3 separate regions of the Homo sapiens genome follow, and all the other regions are linked to region 1. Evidence: fine-mapped expression QTL. A gene starts in region 1. Each other region holds a variant in brackets. All regions are shown on one strand. Distances are between the middles of the regions.

Region 1 (5,223 bases):
ATTACCGTTATTAGTTCCTTAGATTATTTGAGGTCAGAAAACAGAAGAGACAAAGGGGGCTCCTGCCAAAGGACCCATTTTGGCAGCATTCCAAAAGGCCTTGAATTTCTGAGACTCTCTAGGGATGATATTGAAGTGACTGTCCACAGGACTCAATGGTCCAAATGATTCCAGATTGTTGCTCTGTTCCCATCCTCAGTCAGGGTCCCACCATGGACACTGGGAATATAAATTGGGGTGGGGGGTGTGGTCCTGATCCCTCAAAGAGATCACAAACCTGCATCAGGAAACAATAAAAAGCAAAACAAGGCCGGGTACTGTGGCACCTGTAATCCCAGTACTTTGGGAGGCCGAGGAGGGCAGATCACCTGAGGTCAGATGTTCGAGACCAGCTTGACCAATCTGGAGAAACTCCGTCTCTACTAAAAATACAAAATTAGCCAGGCATGGTGGTCCATGCCTGTAATCCCAGCAACTTGGGAGGCCTCCCAGCATTTTGGGAGGCCAAGGCGGGCGGATCACCTGAGGCTGGGAGTTCAAGACCAGCCTGACCAATCTGGAGAAACTCCGTCTCTACTAAAAATACAAAATTAGCTGGGTGTGGTGATGCATGCCTGTAATCCTAGCTACTTGGGAGGCTGAGGCAGGAGAATCGCTTGAACCTGGGAGGCGGAAGTTGCAGTGAGCTGAAATCCAGCCATTTTACTCCAGCCTGGGCAACAAGAGTGAAACTCTGTCTCAAAAAAAAAAAAAAAAAAGCAAAACAAGAGAAAAAGAAGAATCTTATGTCTGCAGCCAACTATGAAAGGAAATGCAAAATAAAAAGGCCACACATCCAGAAGGGCCACCTGATATAAAACAAATAGCAAAGGGGCAGCCATCAGCAGGCCTGCCACTGCCTCTCCAGACGACCTGGACCGGCAACTATCCAAAGTCTTCCACTTCCCCCAGATATTCTGCCAATACTCTGCCCAAATGCAGGGCCACTCACACAAACAGGAGGAAAGAACAGGGTGTCTTATAGTCCAGGAGATCTCTTGACAAAGCTGCCAGAGAAACGTGTCCATCTTGGGCAGGCAGAAGGCCCAGGCATGGCAAACACAGGCTCCAGAATCCAGCCAGAGTGCCTGCCTACCGCTCAGGAGGCGGAAAAAAAAAACAACTAAAGAACAGGGAATTGATTTGATGTGGGCAGTGAGAATTCACCAGGTTTTCAGACCAGCAATCATATAAACTAGTGGGGATCAGATATGTCAGAACAGAGGGGAGAACTCCTCCTTTCCAGTGCAGAAAAGCTCCAGCCACAGAAACACAGCATGGAGGTGGCGAGGGGCGGGGGAAGGTGTTTAAGACAGAGGAAAAGGAAAGTTAATCAGAAAAAAAACAAAACAAAACAAAAACGGACTTCTATTTTTCAAGAGAAGCCGTTTATGCAAAAATTCTGCACTCAAGATAGATGAGGCAACAAGAATAAGCCACTCTTAACCAGGCAAAACAGCAACACAACCACTTAACAAATCCCTCTGGGAATTCAATGGGTACAGCATATACCCCACAGTCATACCCGTAAGTGGAATTCCAGTTGGGCCCTTGTGCCGAAGCTTTAGACCACGAGGCACGTCCTCACCTCCAAGATGTAACTCATCTCAAATAATGGAGACCAGGCCACGAGGTTTCTCCCAGACACGGATTCTGTATTTGTCCTTCTGCAGCTTCCGGGAAGGTTTTTCTCCTAATAAATCCTGTAGAAAGTTCCACTCAGGGTTCTGAGGATTGATACAACCCCCTTCTTGACTGATCAGAGCTTTAGAAAGATTCGCTATGACCACAGGACTGTGTCAAGTTGAACAAGTCTCAACTTGTCGCTGCCAGTATGCAAAATAGGTCTGAAACATCTTATAACAGACAACACAGCAGACACAGTCCCTGCATCCTCAGGGCCCCCGCCCACCCACCACACACAAACACATTTCTCTAGAGTTTTTTTTTCCTAGCAAGGAACTAGCCCCAGTAGCCAGGATTCACAGTGGTGGAGTGGGCGAGAGACAGGCTAACAGCCTCTCTCTGGAAAACCTAATACCAGAAAGGAAACACCAAAACCTCATCCTCTTGTCCCTAAATCCTTGCACGTGATTTCTTCTCCTCTCTAATGTTCTAGAAGGGCCTAAAGTCAGGAGCTTAGATGAACAGAAGAATCTTCCATGCCTGCAAACCACCAGGAAAAGGCATGAGGCATCCACACACAGACGCATGCAGCTTCATGGCTGTGCTTCCTGAAAGTCTACACCCAGAACCACAAACACTGGCATAAATAAGAGCACGTTAGCAAGAGAAGGCAAACCTAATTAAATCAACAGCCCAGCCAAGAAGAATGACCATGATGAGGGTTTAGGAGCACCCAACAAACCCTCACATGCGATGCAAAAACTGAGAAAGTCTCAAAACACGGAGTTACTGAGTTTTTGGAAATCACCTTCGCCCAGCCCTGAGGGGGTGTGAGAGGAAGCGGGGAGTGATGGTCAAAGGATGGAGGGAGGATCACACATTCACAGACCTCTAGTTTCGCCAGAGGGGCCTCCAAACCACATCATGGCTCCAAATCTGTTCTGACTGCAGAGGGGTCTATTTTTAGAAATTAGTTAATATGCCTTTGATCAAGTTCATAAATCCAGAATTGCCTCTATGCACCGGCCATTCGGTGTCATCCCCCTCCCCTCACCCTCCCCAAACGCCCAAACTCGCCACCAGTCTTGAGGCTGGTGATGAGGACAGTGCACGCCTAGCACACACATATTGGATTCCGAAAGCCCCTTTCCTCCGTCCGACTACTCACAGCGCATCCCTACTCAGGGCCAAGTCTCGAGAGTTTCCAGAAACGCAGGGGACAAAATTGGAACTTACTGGAGGGCAGATCTGGCCGTGTCTCCACAGGTCACAGGGACCGCCAACATCCTTTCCGCAAGGAAATCCACTGGAAGGTGCCGGGGGTCCCGGGGCACATCTTTGCTCGCAGCTCGTCGTCGCCCCTCCTCGTCCCGGCCGCCCCGAGCCCGCCCGGCCCGCGGGCCCATGTGCTCGGCCGCCACACGCGCTCTGCCCGGAGGAGCGCGGGGCTGGCGGGTTGCCCGTGACGTCACGGCGGCTCGCGCTCGGGCCTCGGGGGAGGGGGGAGGCGCGCGCGGCCCGGCCCGCCGCGTGCGTCCTCGGTCCCGGCGCTCCCGGCCTTCCCCAGGTCCCCGCCCGCCGCCCGGTGCGCCCCTCAGCCTGCTTCCCGGCAGCGCAGGGCACTGAGCCGGAGAGGGCCGCGCGCGGAGGCGGGGCGGGCTTGGGCGACTGCGGCCGCCAAGGGCCCAGACTGGGGGAGCGGAGGGTAGGCTCTGCCCTGGGCTGGGGGTCCTCGCTACAAGCGCGCCGGAGTCCCACCGGGCCGGAGGGAATCCCCGGTGATGCCAGCTCGCTTGTGCGCCGAGCTTTCCACGGTCTTTCCCTGAGCCCTCTTACCCTTCCCCACACCGTCCTGGAAGCAAGCGGTCTTCCCACTTTCCTGCTGAGGAAGGCGAGTTCAGTGAAATAGGAGGGCCAGAGATGCTCCGGGATAGGTGCAGTTCCCGCAGAAGACCGCCGACTGAGCTCCAGCTCCAGTGATCTGAGCGCCTCTTTGGGTACCACCCAGCATCCGCCGGCCTGGTGAGAAGGGCGCGCGCACCTTCTCGCCTCCTTCGACGTCTCCCGCTGTTTCCAGAAGCCGAGTTGCAAACCCGTGCAGAGGGCCAGCGGTCTGCGCAGCTCCCTCCACTCCGGGCAGAGTTGACCTACAGAGTGTGTTCAACGAGTCCCTTAAATGCCCAGTAGTTCCTCCAAAGGAGCAAGTGGACACTGGCCTCCCATGTGGGATGTGGTTATCTTGTTCTATCTGCATAAACCCGAGACTGGACAGATGTAAGAGCTGCCCCTGTTCAGTTCAAAGTTTATTTTATTTATTTATTTATTTATTTATTTATTTATTTATTTAGAGATGAAGTTTCACTCTGTCACCCAGGCTGGAGTGCAGTGGCCCGATCATGGCTCACTGCAACCTCCGCCTGCCTGGTTCAAGCGATTCTCCTGCCTCAGCCTCCGGAGTAGCTGGGATCACAGGCGCGCGCCACCACGCCCAGCTAATTTTTGTAATTTTAGCAGAGACAAGGTTTCACCATGTTGGCCAGGCTGGTCTCGAACTCCGAACCTGAGATGATCCACTCGCTTCGGCCTCCCAAATTGCTGGGATTACAGGCGTGAGCCACCACGCCAGCGCCCGTCCAGTTCAACGTCTACTGAGCACTTAAGGGGAGTCAGGCACCCAGCTAGGCAATGGGGTGGGGGTTACTCATGGACCCTAGAAGGACGTCACAAACCAGCAAAAATTGGACACACAAATGGGTGGTATCAATATTACGGAACAGAAGGTTGCCCCTCTTCTCCCCTGCCGGCTACCCTACATCCTACTCACTCCAACCTACCCGGAGGCTCCTCCCTCTTTCTGTGTAGTGTTTCATCACATCTCTTCCCGTGGCGGCTTCTCAACGCAAATGTTCTTATTTGAAAAAGAAAAAACAATTACTCAGTTGATGCTCCTGTTCTGCCTGTTTCACAGATTCATTTACACTCATGGGCATCTCTTTTGTGCCTGGCTCCTTGCCAGGAGCTGGACAAGTCTCCGCTTTGTGCCTGGCTCTCTGTGAGGGGCTGGACAGGTGTCTGTTTTGTGCCTGGCTCTCTGTGAGGGGCTAGACAGGTGTCTGTTTTGTGCCCGGCTCTGAGAGGGACTGGGCAGGTGCCTGAGCTGCAGTTGGCATCTAGTTGTCATCCATCTTTTAAAATATAAAAAGAAGATGATGAGAAACCTCTGCATCTATACATCATGCGATAGGAGCTGTGAGACCTTAATCCTTTCACTGCTTAATCATTTTTTCCAGAAACCAAAGGCTGTGACCTTGAGGAAGCCAGTGTCCTCCTGGGGGATGCTGGTGGGCTATGAGAGGACCAGCTTCTAATGGCAGACGTCTCTGTCCATGTCCTGACAGTTGATGCCCAGTCCCTTCTGCATGGAAAATCTCCCCTGGCTGAAAAGACACTTTCACCCAGGACTCACTCAACTTTGACCTTGATGCTGTTTGCCCTCTCTGGGTCTCCAGCTCTCATGCACTAATCTTAGATTCACATTTTCCTTTTTATTAATTTCTT
Region 2 (5,223 bases), 200 kb before region 1:
GCATGCACATGGATTCATATACACACATTTATTTATTTATGTATTTATTTATTTTTAAAAATTTTTACAGGGAAAAGTGTAAATGCAGTCCCCCATTACCACAAATTATGCAGTCAAGTCTCCCACATTTGGGGGAATCACAGGGGTCAGCACATCGGGAGTGCAATGGATAAGCCTCACCCTGGGGAAACCACCTTTGTGATCATGGTATCTCCCCTGCCAGGTAAGTATTCATATGTGTTAAAAAAATTGTTCTCCCCATCCTCCCTACACACATATATTTCACTGCTCTGTCAGTTGAGAAGATCTGGAGGAAACAACACCTCAAGCACATCTAGCACCCAGATCTTGGATTCTAAGTCCTTTCTCCAGTAAAATGACAGGGGATCCTTGAAGAAATGGCTGATTCTATAACTGGGGCTGGAAATATACAAGATAAGCCCTAAGCATCTTATAGTGCCAGAAAGTATGGATGCACCAAAAAAAGAGAGAGAGAGAGAGAGAGGGAGGGAGGGAAGGAAGGAAGGAAGGAAGGAAGGAAGGGGAGGAGGAGAAGAGGAAGGAGGAAAGGAAGGAAGAAAGGAAGGAAGGAAAAGGAAGGTAGGAAAAGAAAGGAAGAAAAGGAAGGAAGGAAGGAGAAAGGAAGGAAAGAAAGAAAGAAAGAAGAAAGAAAAGAGGAAGGGAGGGAAGGAAGGAAGGAAAAAAGGAAGAAAAAGGAAGGAAGGAGGGAGTGAGGGAGGGAGGAAGGAAGGAAAGAAAAGAAAAAAGAAAAGAAAAGAGGGAGGGAGGAAGGGAAGGAAGGAAGAGAGAGAGAGAGAGAGAGAGAAAGAAAGAAGGAAAGAAAAGGAAGAAAGAAAGACCCATAATAAGAAAGTATGTCAAATGGGCACAGGAAGTAACTGAAGAGTTCCCAATAGCCAAGGAAGAAAAACCATGAGCAACAAAATAAAACCATATTATTGGATTATAACTCAAATAAATTAAAAATTATCAAATAAATACCTGCAAGTCCATGCTGATATATAAATAAATAAATAGGAGAGAGGAGTTAAATCTCCCAGGTAGAAAAAATCTAAATAGTTCATGTAGATCCTCTAGCCATGGAGAAGGAAGAGCAGGAATGCCCTCTTCTTAGGGGATGGCTATGCACAGTGACTTCCTTCTGAAGAGTTTAATATAAAAAGGGAGTTAAGAAAGAACAAAAACACAAAAGTATCTTTAAAGTGGACAAACCTGACAACCACTACAGCAGCCAGGTAATCAAAGTCAACATCAGTGATAGGTCATGCTGATGGTGCCTACCCTTGATTTCATAAAAGCGGAACTTTACCTCTGTGGCCTTCCTCCATAATCCCAATCTAATAAGAAGAAGAATCAGACAACCCTCACAGAGGTACGTTCTATGAAATACCTGACCAGTCAAAACTGGTCATCAAAACTCAAGACTGTCAATGTCATCACAAACCAGGAGAGTCTGAGAAAGCGGCACAGCCCAGGGCAATCTAAGAAGACATGATCACTAAATGTGATGTGGGATCCCAGATGGGATCCTGGACCAGGTAAAAACTAAAGTAATGTTTCAACTTCAGTAAATAATAATGTATCAATATTGGTCCATTAATTGTGGCAAATGTGCCACACTAATGCAAAGCGTTAGTAACAGGGAAAACTGGGAGCAGGGTATATGAGAACTTTTTGAACTGTTTTCACAATTCTCCTGTAAATCTAAAACTCTTCTGAAAATAGAGTTTATTCTTTAAAAGTGTCTGGAGGATGTGCACAAGGGTGTGGCAGCAGAGGGGCTACAGGTAAAAAATCATGACATCTGGAATATTTCCTTCAATTTTTGCTCCACACGGTGACTATCTTACCCTGCTCCCATTAAACTCTGAACAATGTTATCAGCCTGAAAAATGGATTGGCAGGAATGTGTAATGTCGAAGCTGGGAGGGACTATGGCGGCCATCCAGGCCCCTGCTTTCAATTACACTTGAGGAAAATCAAATCCAAAGACCGGAAGCGGCCAGGCTCGGTGGCTCACTCCTGTAATCCCAGCACTTTGGGAGGCTGAGGCAGACGGATCACCTGAGGTCAGGAGTTCGAGACCAGCCTGACCAACACGGAGAAACCCCATCACTACTAAAAATACAAAATTAGCCGGACGTGGTGGCGCATGCCTGTAATCTCAGCTACTGGGGAGAATCGCTTGACCCCGGGAGGCAGAGCTTGTGGTGAGCTGAGATCACGCCATTGTACTCCACCCTAGGCAACAAGAGTGAAACTCTGTATCAAAAAACAAACAAACAAAAAAAAAAAACGAAAGCAAATGACCAGTGAATGTTCCAGTTCAGTGCCCATGGGTAGAGCTGAAATCCTCAGGGTCCTGGAAGACTGATGGACAGCAATGTCAGCCTGTCCTCAGAACAGGCCACTCTGCAGAGGAAACCGAGGCTCACAAGAGCCAAGAGCCTTCTTCCCAGCCAGAGGGCTGGCAAGCAGCAAAGCAGAGAGCCAGGTTCAGGTCTCCTTTCCGGCTTCACAGAAGTGCTACCTCCCTGCTACCACTAACCCTCACACCCCCGACCCCTGTCCCCATG[G/A]CCAGTCACTTTCCCGTTTCCTCCCACAGCAGCAGGGGGCGGCGGCTGAAGACTCAGGTAAGATGCAACTCAGGGAGGATGGCACTTAGATTGGTTTCTCTTTCTTTTTTTCTTGATTCTGTCTTTATGAAACTTTGCTTTAACCCAACATTGTTTAAATCCCGACCTGGTTTCTCGTGAGCTTGAAGCCAGGGTGCCCACACTCTGCAAAAGAAGAAAAATGCCAGTATGAGTCCTTGAGGCTCAGTGTTGTTGTGCAGTCCGTGGACAGGACAATGTCCTCATTTCAAGGTTTCATTTTTGGAGGAAAAAAAATTCCTCAGGATGCAGGATGCCCTGCATCCCATAATGGGTATGCCCCCATTGAAACCAGCTCTGGGAGGGTGACCAAACTAAAAAGGAAACAGTTCCAAGCAGAAGGACACAAATTACCAGCAGAGTCATTATTACTCACAGCAATTCAGGCCCAGGGTCTATGTGGTGCAGGGTTTCTGAAAGCCGGCCTATACCTGGGAAGGAGGGAGAGAACCAGAGGCCTGGATGCTGGGTGGAGGTTCTGTGATTTACTTTGTTACAAATTTAAGAATAAAACCTGCTGGATCAGGAGCTTTTCCTATCTCCTCAAATAAACCTGGATCCCAAGAGGAACAGAAAGGAGAAAGGTGAGTGTGGGAGAGGAATTGGAGTGCAAGCTCAGAGGTCCTTGAGGGAGGGAGGAGAAGGTGTCTGCTTTGGGGAATGGCAATAAGAGGTATGTTGGGATGGAGATACCCAAATGTGTAGCACTTATACCGATTTAGCAAATGGTCCTCTCATTAGCAAAAGCTTCTAAACATTAGCCTTAAGTTTAAAAAAAAAAAGGACATTTGAAATTATGCAAAAGCCCAGAGCACCAATATGCGCTTCACATACGTTCCGCAGGAAGATTCCTTCATTTGCAAACTGGAGTATATTACGTAATCATTTCCATTTCCTGGCAGGTTGTGAAGAGTAAATGACATCATATAATGTAAAGTGCTTGAAACACCATGAATAATACATTTGAGCTATTACTATTTTTACCATGATTACTGGTAGATTAAAAGCAGTCTCTTCATGGCCATCTTGATTACTACTAGTACTAACACGACCATCACCGCAAACACTACTACTACTATAAGGATAGTACTTTATTAGCGGTGCTTAATAGAATCTATTATAATTCTCAATACTTAGCATATTTCAGGAGGAAAACTGACTGACGGACTGATATAATGCACAATTAAAGAAATGAACAAAGAAATGGATAGATTCCTATAATGTGGGGGGTGTATCTTAAAAGAAAAGCAGTCCAATAGGTTTCAAAGAGCAAAACCAGGAGTCAAGAGCTGTCTCTAATCCCAGGAGCCGGATGCTGTGAACACAGGAGTGTTCAATAAATACCTAACTGATGTCTGAGCAAGGAAGAGACAAAGAATGACAACAGTCAATTGGGCTTAGCTTAGATAAACACTCAAAGCCAGGATACAGACAGAACAGGACAAGAGTGGCTCTTACAGTCACTTGATTCAGGGTCCTTGTTTTAATGATGGGGCTGTGAAGGATCAAAGGGGTCAGCTGGGGCTCAACACTCAAAGGGCAGCTTTGGGCCAAGTCAATCAAACCAGCCTGGTGAGCTGAGATGCACGTTACCCAGTAAATACAGGTATTGGGATAGACTGTGTCTCTGCAGTGTGATGGTTAATTTTGTGTGTCAACTTGACTGGGCCACAGGATTTCCAGAGAGCTGGTTAAACAGCATTTCTGAGTATGTCCAGATGAGATTATCACTTCAACCAGGAGACTGAGTAAAGCAGATGGTCCTCTTCAATGTGGGTTGGGCCTCATTCAACCCACTGAAGGCCTGAATAGAACAGAAAGGCACAGGAAGGTTGAATTTCATCTCTGCCTGATTGCTTGTTCTGGGACATCGATCTTCTCCTGCCCTTGGCATTCCTGGTCCTCAGGCCTTCGAATCTGGACTGGAATCTACACTACAGGTTCTCCAGCCCTCTGCCCTTTGTGACACGACAGCTGTTTCCTAGGTCTCCAGCCTGCAGGTGGCAAATCACAGGACCCCTCTGGGTCCATAATTGCATGAGCCAATACCTTATAATAAATAAATCTCCTAGATATAGATATAAATATCAAGGTAGATATTGATATAGACATGGATACGCATCTATCTTCATGTTCTATTGGTCCTGTTTCTCTGGAAAGCCCTGACTAATACATCTGTATATTTTGAAGGCTTTAAAGAAGGACAAAGCTCTTTTTTATCCACTCTGTTAACTCCTCATAGCCTATCTCAGCAACTGACTCATAACAGGAAAGTGGACAAGGGCAGAGAGGACAGGAGGGAATGGCTACCTCCTGCCAGTCACCACACAAGGTGCTGGGGAGGTGGGTTCAGTGAGACCCAAGGCTCTGCTCCCAGGGAAAGTTGGAGAGATCGTGTTTCCAGGCGAGATCCCAAACACAGCCCCCATCAGCAGAACCCGTCCCACAAGAGGCACTGTAGAGAGAAAGATCCTCATTTTCAGAAGAAACAGAGCTGAAAGAAGGGACTAGGAGTGGGCAGAGGACAATGGTGGAGAAGGAGAGACAG
Region 3 (5,223 bases), 170 kb before region 1:
GGGGCTCACGCCTGTAATCCCATGCTGTGGGAGGCTGAGGCAGTACAATGGCTTGAGCTCAAGAGTAGGAGAGCTGCAAGGGGAACATGGTAAAACCCCATTCTTAAAATAAATCAATAAAATAATAATAAAATTAAATAAAGTTGTTTAAAAATAATAATCTTGAGATGAGATCATTGGAGGCCCTAAAACATGAGGAGAGACGGACATAGAGAAGGTACGTGGAGACAAGAGCAGAGATTGGAATGATTCTGCCACAAGCCGAGCAACATCCAGTGCCACAAGCAGCTGGAAGAGGCAAGGAAAGGGTGTCCCTTAGCACCTCAGAGGGTGTCAACCTCGCTGACACCTTGATTTCAGACTTCTGGCCTCCAGAACTGTAAGACAATAAATTTCTGTTGTTTTAAGCTACCAAATCTGTCGAAATTTGTTACTGCAGCCACAAAAAAACAATAAGGGCCTTTGCCTCCAGCAGGAGAAGGAAGCCAGGCTTTGACTCTGGAGGGTCTGAAGCCCAGTGTGGCTAGAACCCTTCCGAGGACCTCCATCCTCCAGTTCTGCTCCCACTGGTGGCTTCGGTTGGTCGCTGCTGTATCCGCCAAGCTGAGAATGGGCCACCACAAGACAGGCATAACCAGGAACTATTTCTGAACCAGTGAGCTAATGGCCTCCCACTCTGACATCCAGGTGCATGCAGGCCTGCTGCAGGGAACACACCACCGAACATCTGGGAATGACAACTGTCAAAACAGGACTCCCAGCAGATGCTGCTCCTCTCCAGGCATGGCTGACTTGCCCCTCTTTGCCCAGCCTTCCCTGAACCCATCTGCTTGTCCTGGAAGGACGCTCCTGGGGGTCATCGTCGTCATGGCACTCCTTCATCTGCAATAAGCCTTCGCAGTCCCTGTGGGGATCTCCCTCCAGCTGTGAGTTCCCTCACAGTGCAAATTCAGCCATTCTCCACTCGACATTCAACCCCTGACAAACGTTACTGGACGAATAAACGATCCTAGAACTGAAAACAGAATACGAAGATATTTCTATTCCAACTCTTCAGTCAATATATATTCAAACCAAGAATCAGAGAAGTGGAGGGAACCACCAGGACCAGGTCCCAAGGCACGCAGGACAAAGGCCATGCTGGATTTAGGGCAGGACTCCATTCCTCCATTCCAACCCCACCTGGGCCCCAGCTAGATCAGCTTCCTCCCCAAACATCATTCCCTGATGTTTCCCAAGTGCCAAAAATCATGCCTGACACATAGTACATGTTTGAGTGAATATTTATTAAATAGGCCCAGAAGTCAGAGTGGAGATGTACAAAGTTGGTTTCAATATTTGTAAATGCTGCTGCTTCAAAAAAAGGGTGGAGGGGGGTGGGGGGTGCTGCCTTTCTATGGAAAAGTTAAAAATATCTAAGAGTGCTAAATCCCCCTGTGTTAGTAGTTCAGGGAACTTTTCTGCCACACTTTTTCTCAGAGGAGGCAGGAGTGGGTGAGAACAAGAATTGAGTGATTTCCAATAACAACGCTAGTGTAAACAACCACACTCACCCATGCACCAAACAGGTGGCAAATCTCACCAGGTGTCAGACACTGAGAGAAGCACCAGGGACACACAAATGGCAAACCCCAGTCCTGCCCCGTGGACCGCACCATCCAAGGTAGAGGGCAGGCAGTCACCAACATGGTGGCAAGTGGCCGATGCGAGCCTAGGACCTGGGATAACAGAGCATGGTGTGAAGTCAGCCTGGGCAGGGGCAGGAAGGCTGCCGTGCGAGGGGTGGAAGATCTCAGAACTGAAAAGATCCTGTCTTGGGCACTTCTAGGAAGAAGAGAAAGCTGCTGGGCAGGGTGAGACCCAGACTCTGTTGAGGAAAGAGAGGAGAGCTGGCCAGCCCGATCTCAATCCCGCAGGCCAGAGGTCCATTGGGGCCCTCTTCCAAACACCTCCTCTTCCCTGACCACCCCAGTGAGGATCTGACACTACTGCCCATCTGCAAGTAAAATAGGGACTGCTCCTTTGTAAAACAGGGACCCTAAAATGCAGATGAGGCCAGGCATGGAGGCTCATGCCTGTAATCCCAGCACTTTGGGAGGCCGAGGTGGGCGATCACCTGAGGTCAGGTGTTTGAGACCAGCCTGGCCAACACGGTGAAACCCCGTCTCTACTAAAAATACAAAAATTAGCCAGGTGCAGTGGTGTGCCCCTGTAATCCCAGCTACTCGGGAGGCTGAGACAGCAGAATCACTTGAACCCAGGAGGCAGAGGCTGCAGTGAGCCGAGATAGCACCCCCGCACTCCAGCCTCGTCAACAAATCGTCAACAAAAAAAAATAAAATGCAGACGAACCTCCAGAAGACAAGGACAAAAACCGCAACCTGGGTGTGAGAACACCCAGGCCCTAGGCCTTAAGAGGGATGGTAACCCCTAGCCCTGTCATCTACAAAATAAGGTCACAGCAGAGCTAGATGATCTATAATGTCACAGCTGAAGTTAAAAAATTCAATGAGTTGATCACACCCAACTCAAGGTGCTGGCTTAAGGATTAAGAAGGAACACATGTGTCAAAAACCATTAGGCTGCAAAGCAGTGCCACCGATGATCATGTGTACAACAACAACCCCCTAAATGTGTGGCCCACTCCCAGTGAGCCAGCCCTGGGCTCAGAATTCTACATTCATGGCCGGGAGCGGTGGCTCACGCCTGTAATCCCAGCACTTTGGGAGGCCAAGGCAGGTGGATCACGAGATCAAGAGATTGAGACCATCCTGGCCAACATGGTGAAACCCCGTCTGTACTGAAAATATAAAAATTAGCTGGGAGTGCCCCTGCAGGCCCAGCTACTTGGGAGGCTGAGGCAGGAGAATCGCTTGAACCCCAGAGGCGGAGGTTGCAGTGAGGCGAGATCGCGCCACTGCACTCCAGCCTAGGCGACAGAGCGAGACTCCGTCTCAAAAAAAAAAATTCTACATTCATTATCTCCTTCGTCCTCACAACAAACCTGGAGAATGCAGAGGTGCTACATTTCTACCCACTTTATAGACCAAAATGTGAAGTTACAGGTTAGTCATTGTTGAAGCCAGAAACCAGGAGTCAGACTCGGGCAGGGGGGGCCTCTGGAGCTCCTGAAGGCCATCCCCACTCCCTAAACAAGGTTGAGAAGGTGTGGTTTAAAGAG[G/A]AACACCATGGAAGGAAACCAGTGCTTTCTTCACTTTTTAGTCTGGCAAAACAATCCTTCAAGTTGTTCCGTGGTTTGGAGAACAGTAATGTGTATGGGTAACAGGTGCTCAGTGGTACGGACAAGGTTATACATTTCCAGCCTCAGAGTCTTCAAGGCAGCTTGCTGGTAGGAGAACCTGGATTTGCTCATGCAGTCTTGGGCACAGCCCTCACTTACCTTAGATGCTCACCCAGCTTGGGGTGGGGCACAGCCCCTCCAGACTCCAGCCCAAACAATCCCCATCACCTCCGCATTTCCTAGTACAACACACAGCACCGAATCTATTCAGTGGCCTAAGCTGGACACAGAAAAGAACATTTTACCCCTTCCTTCCTGTAACCCCAGAGGCTCTTCGTGCACCGCGTTCAGGGACTTCTCTCTTGGGTCTCCAGTGCATCCCTGTCTCCTCCAGCTCAGGCCCCGTCACCACTGGCCACCAGCTTGGACCTCCCTCTGATCTTGTCTTCCTATGGCAGAGGCCATGCTTTCTGAAATGCTAATCTCTCCCTCTCTCACCTCTGCTTAAAATCTGCATCATGAGACCATCGCCCTCAGCACAAAGTCAAAATGGTCTTTCTAGGATCTGGCCTCTGCTTACCTTTCCTGTCTCCCTCCTGCCTCTTCTCTGGGCAAACTCCTTCCTTCCCCTGACCACCCTAAGTCCACACCCTGGGCCCTTCTGTGTGCCTATGGCACCCTGTGTCCCCAGGCAGGCACCTTGGCTGTGATTATCTGATTTCTCATCTAAATTCCTCCCCTATTCGTGCCCGCCCGCCCCCCCCACCCCCAAACACACACACAAGAGAACAAAAAATCTCTAAGGAAAAAGAGCACTTCCAACTCATTCCTGTACTTCCAGAATGCATGCAGCACCATGCCTGGCCTGCAGTATGTGCTCAATTAAACTATTGCATAATGAGAAATACCCTATGTTTTGAAGTGTCCAGGAAATTGAAACAATAATACTCTCTCCCCACAAAAAACAGAAAACAGTTATCTATGCCTCAGTTTTTGTGTCTGAAAAATGGAGACAGACTCCAGAACAGGGTTGACAGGAAGGAAGTACCTCAAAGCAAACCCTGCAGAGGCCTTCAGTGATAAGTGTTCACTTTCCCTATCTTCAGCTTGCTGATTTCCCTATCGTGGTGCATCCATCCAGAAGGCCACAAAGATCCTATCTCCCACCAACTGAACTTCAAAAGCATCTTTATCTGCAGAACCCACCTCAAGGAAGGTCGATTCCTAACTTCTCTCGGTGATCCTTTTATTCTGGGCTAGCTAGGCACACCCGCCCAGCCTTATCTGTAATGTCCCCAAGCTGTTGTCTTTCCAGGAAGGGTGTCTCCTATCTACAGGCCTCCAGGAGGCAAGACCAGGGAGGCAAATGGAGGAGAGCCACTCTGTGACCTGAGATCTGGCTTCTGCCACCCTCAAGCTGTGTGACCTGGGACAAATCAACCCATTCATCAGAGGCTCAGCTTCCCCATGTACCCCTCTGTTCAAAAAAGGGAGTAGACTCACGGACCCTCCAACTTGGAAACTGCAGTAACAGGCTGTACTGGACATGTTGAATGAACACCACAATGGCTGCCTAAGCCGATCCCTTCTAGCAAAAGAGGGAGAGTGAAGCAGAAAGAAATCAGGGAAATTTCCAGAAATCATGTCATCCTGGGTTGCCTGAAGATGACAAAACTACGACGTACAGGAGACCCCTTCCAGGAATCACATACTGCATCCGGGGAAGGCCAGAAGTAAGTGCAGACATACATGAAAAGGCAGGCATTAGGGATGGTTAAGTGGATGCCAATTCCCTGCTTCCAGAAATGAACTCAGCCTAATGAAAATTCTGCAGGCGCCTCACCTGTATATTGCACTTGGGGCTAGGAGTGCAAGCCACCCAGGGGCTCCTGACGGGCTGCTCACCTAGGTCCCAACCCCCTTCTGCCATTTCCTAACCGGTTTGTTCTCAGCCTCTTTGAACTTCAGATGCTGAGCAGCTT

Evidence for each region. PIP is the estimated chance that this variant, and not a neighbour inherited with it, causes the effect.
Region 2: its variant is fine-mapped to the expression of PVT1 in blood mononuclear cells (TOPMed, PIP above 0.99). The same link has a PIP of 0.9 or more in Th2 cells, adrenal gland, esophagus mucosa, fibroblasts, follicular helper T cells and lung.
Region 3: its variant is fine-mapped to the expression of PVT1 in whole blood (TOPMed, PIP above 0.99).

What each region holds. Positions count from the first base shown.
Region 1 is chr8:127,792,413-127,797,635 of GRCh38, reverse strand. PVT1 (Pvt1 oncogene) reads right to left here and starts at 3,112. Exons shown (of 9, transcript NR_190187.1): 1 at 2,902-3,112. MIR1204 (microRNA 1204) reads right to left here and starts at 1,674; the gene lies at 1,608-1,674. RefSeq lists enhancers at 1,637-1,976, 2,077-2,126, 1,848-2,419, 2,420-2,989, 4,132-4,702 and silencers at 3,107-3,266, 3,277-3,336, 3,357-3,406.
Region 2 is chr8:127,994,139-127,999,361 of GRCh38, reverse strand. All of the region lies in intron 4 of PVT1 (Pvt1 oncogene), which reads right to left. It also overlaps the pseudogene RNVU1-32. Among named protein-coding and RNA genes, the nearest start is that of MIR1206, 12 kb to the left of the region's middle. RefSeq lists an enhancer at 2,692-2,781. The variant G/A (reference allele first, on the strand shown) is at 2,598.
Region 3 is chr8:127,959,726-127,964,948 of GRCh38, reverse strand. The region is part of intron 3 of PVT1 (Pvt1 oncogene); the gene reads right to left. MIR1205 (microRNA 1205) reads right to left here and starts at 4,316; the gene lies at 4,254-4,316. RefSeq lists enhancers at 39-650, 3,965-4,940 and a cis regulatory region at 4,447-4,558. The variant G/A (reference allele first, on the strand shown) is at 3,182.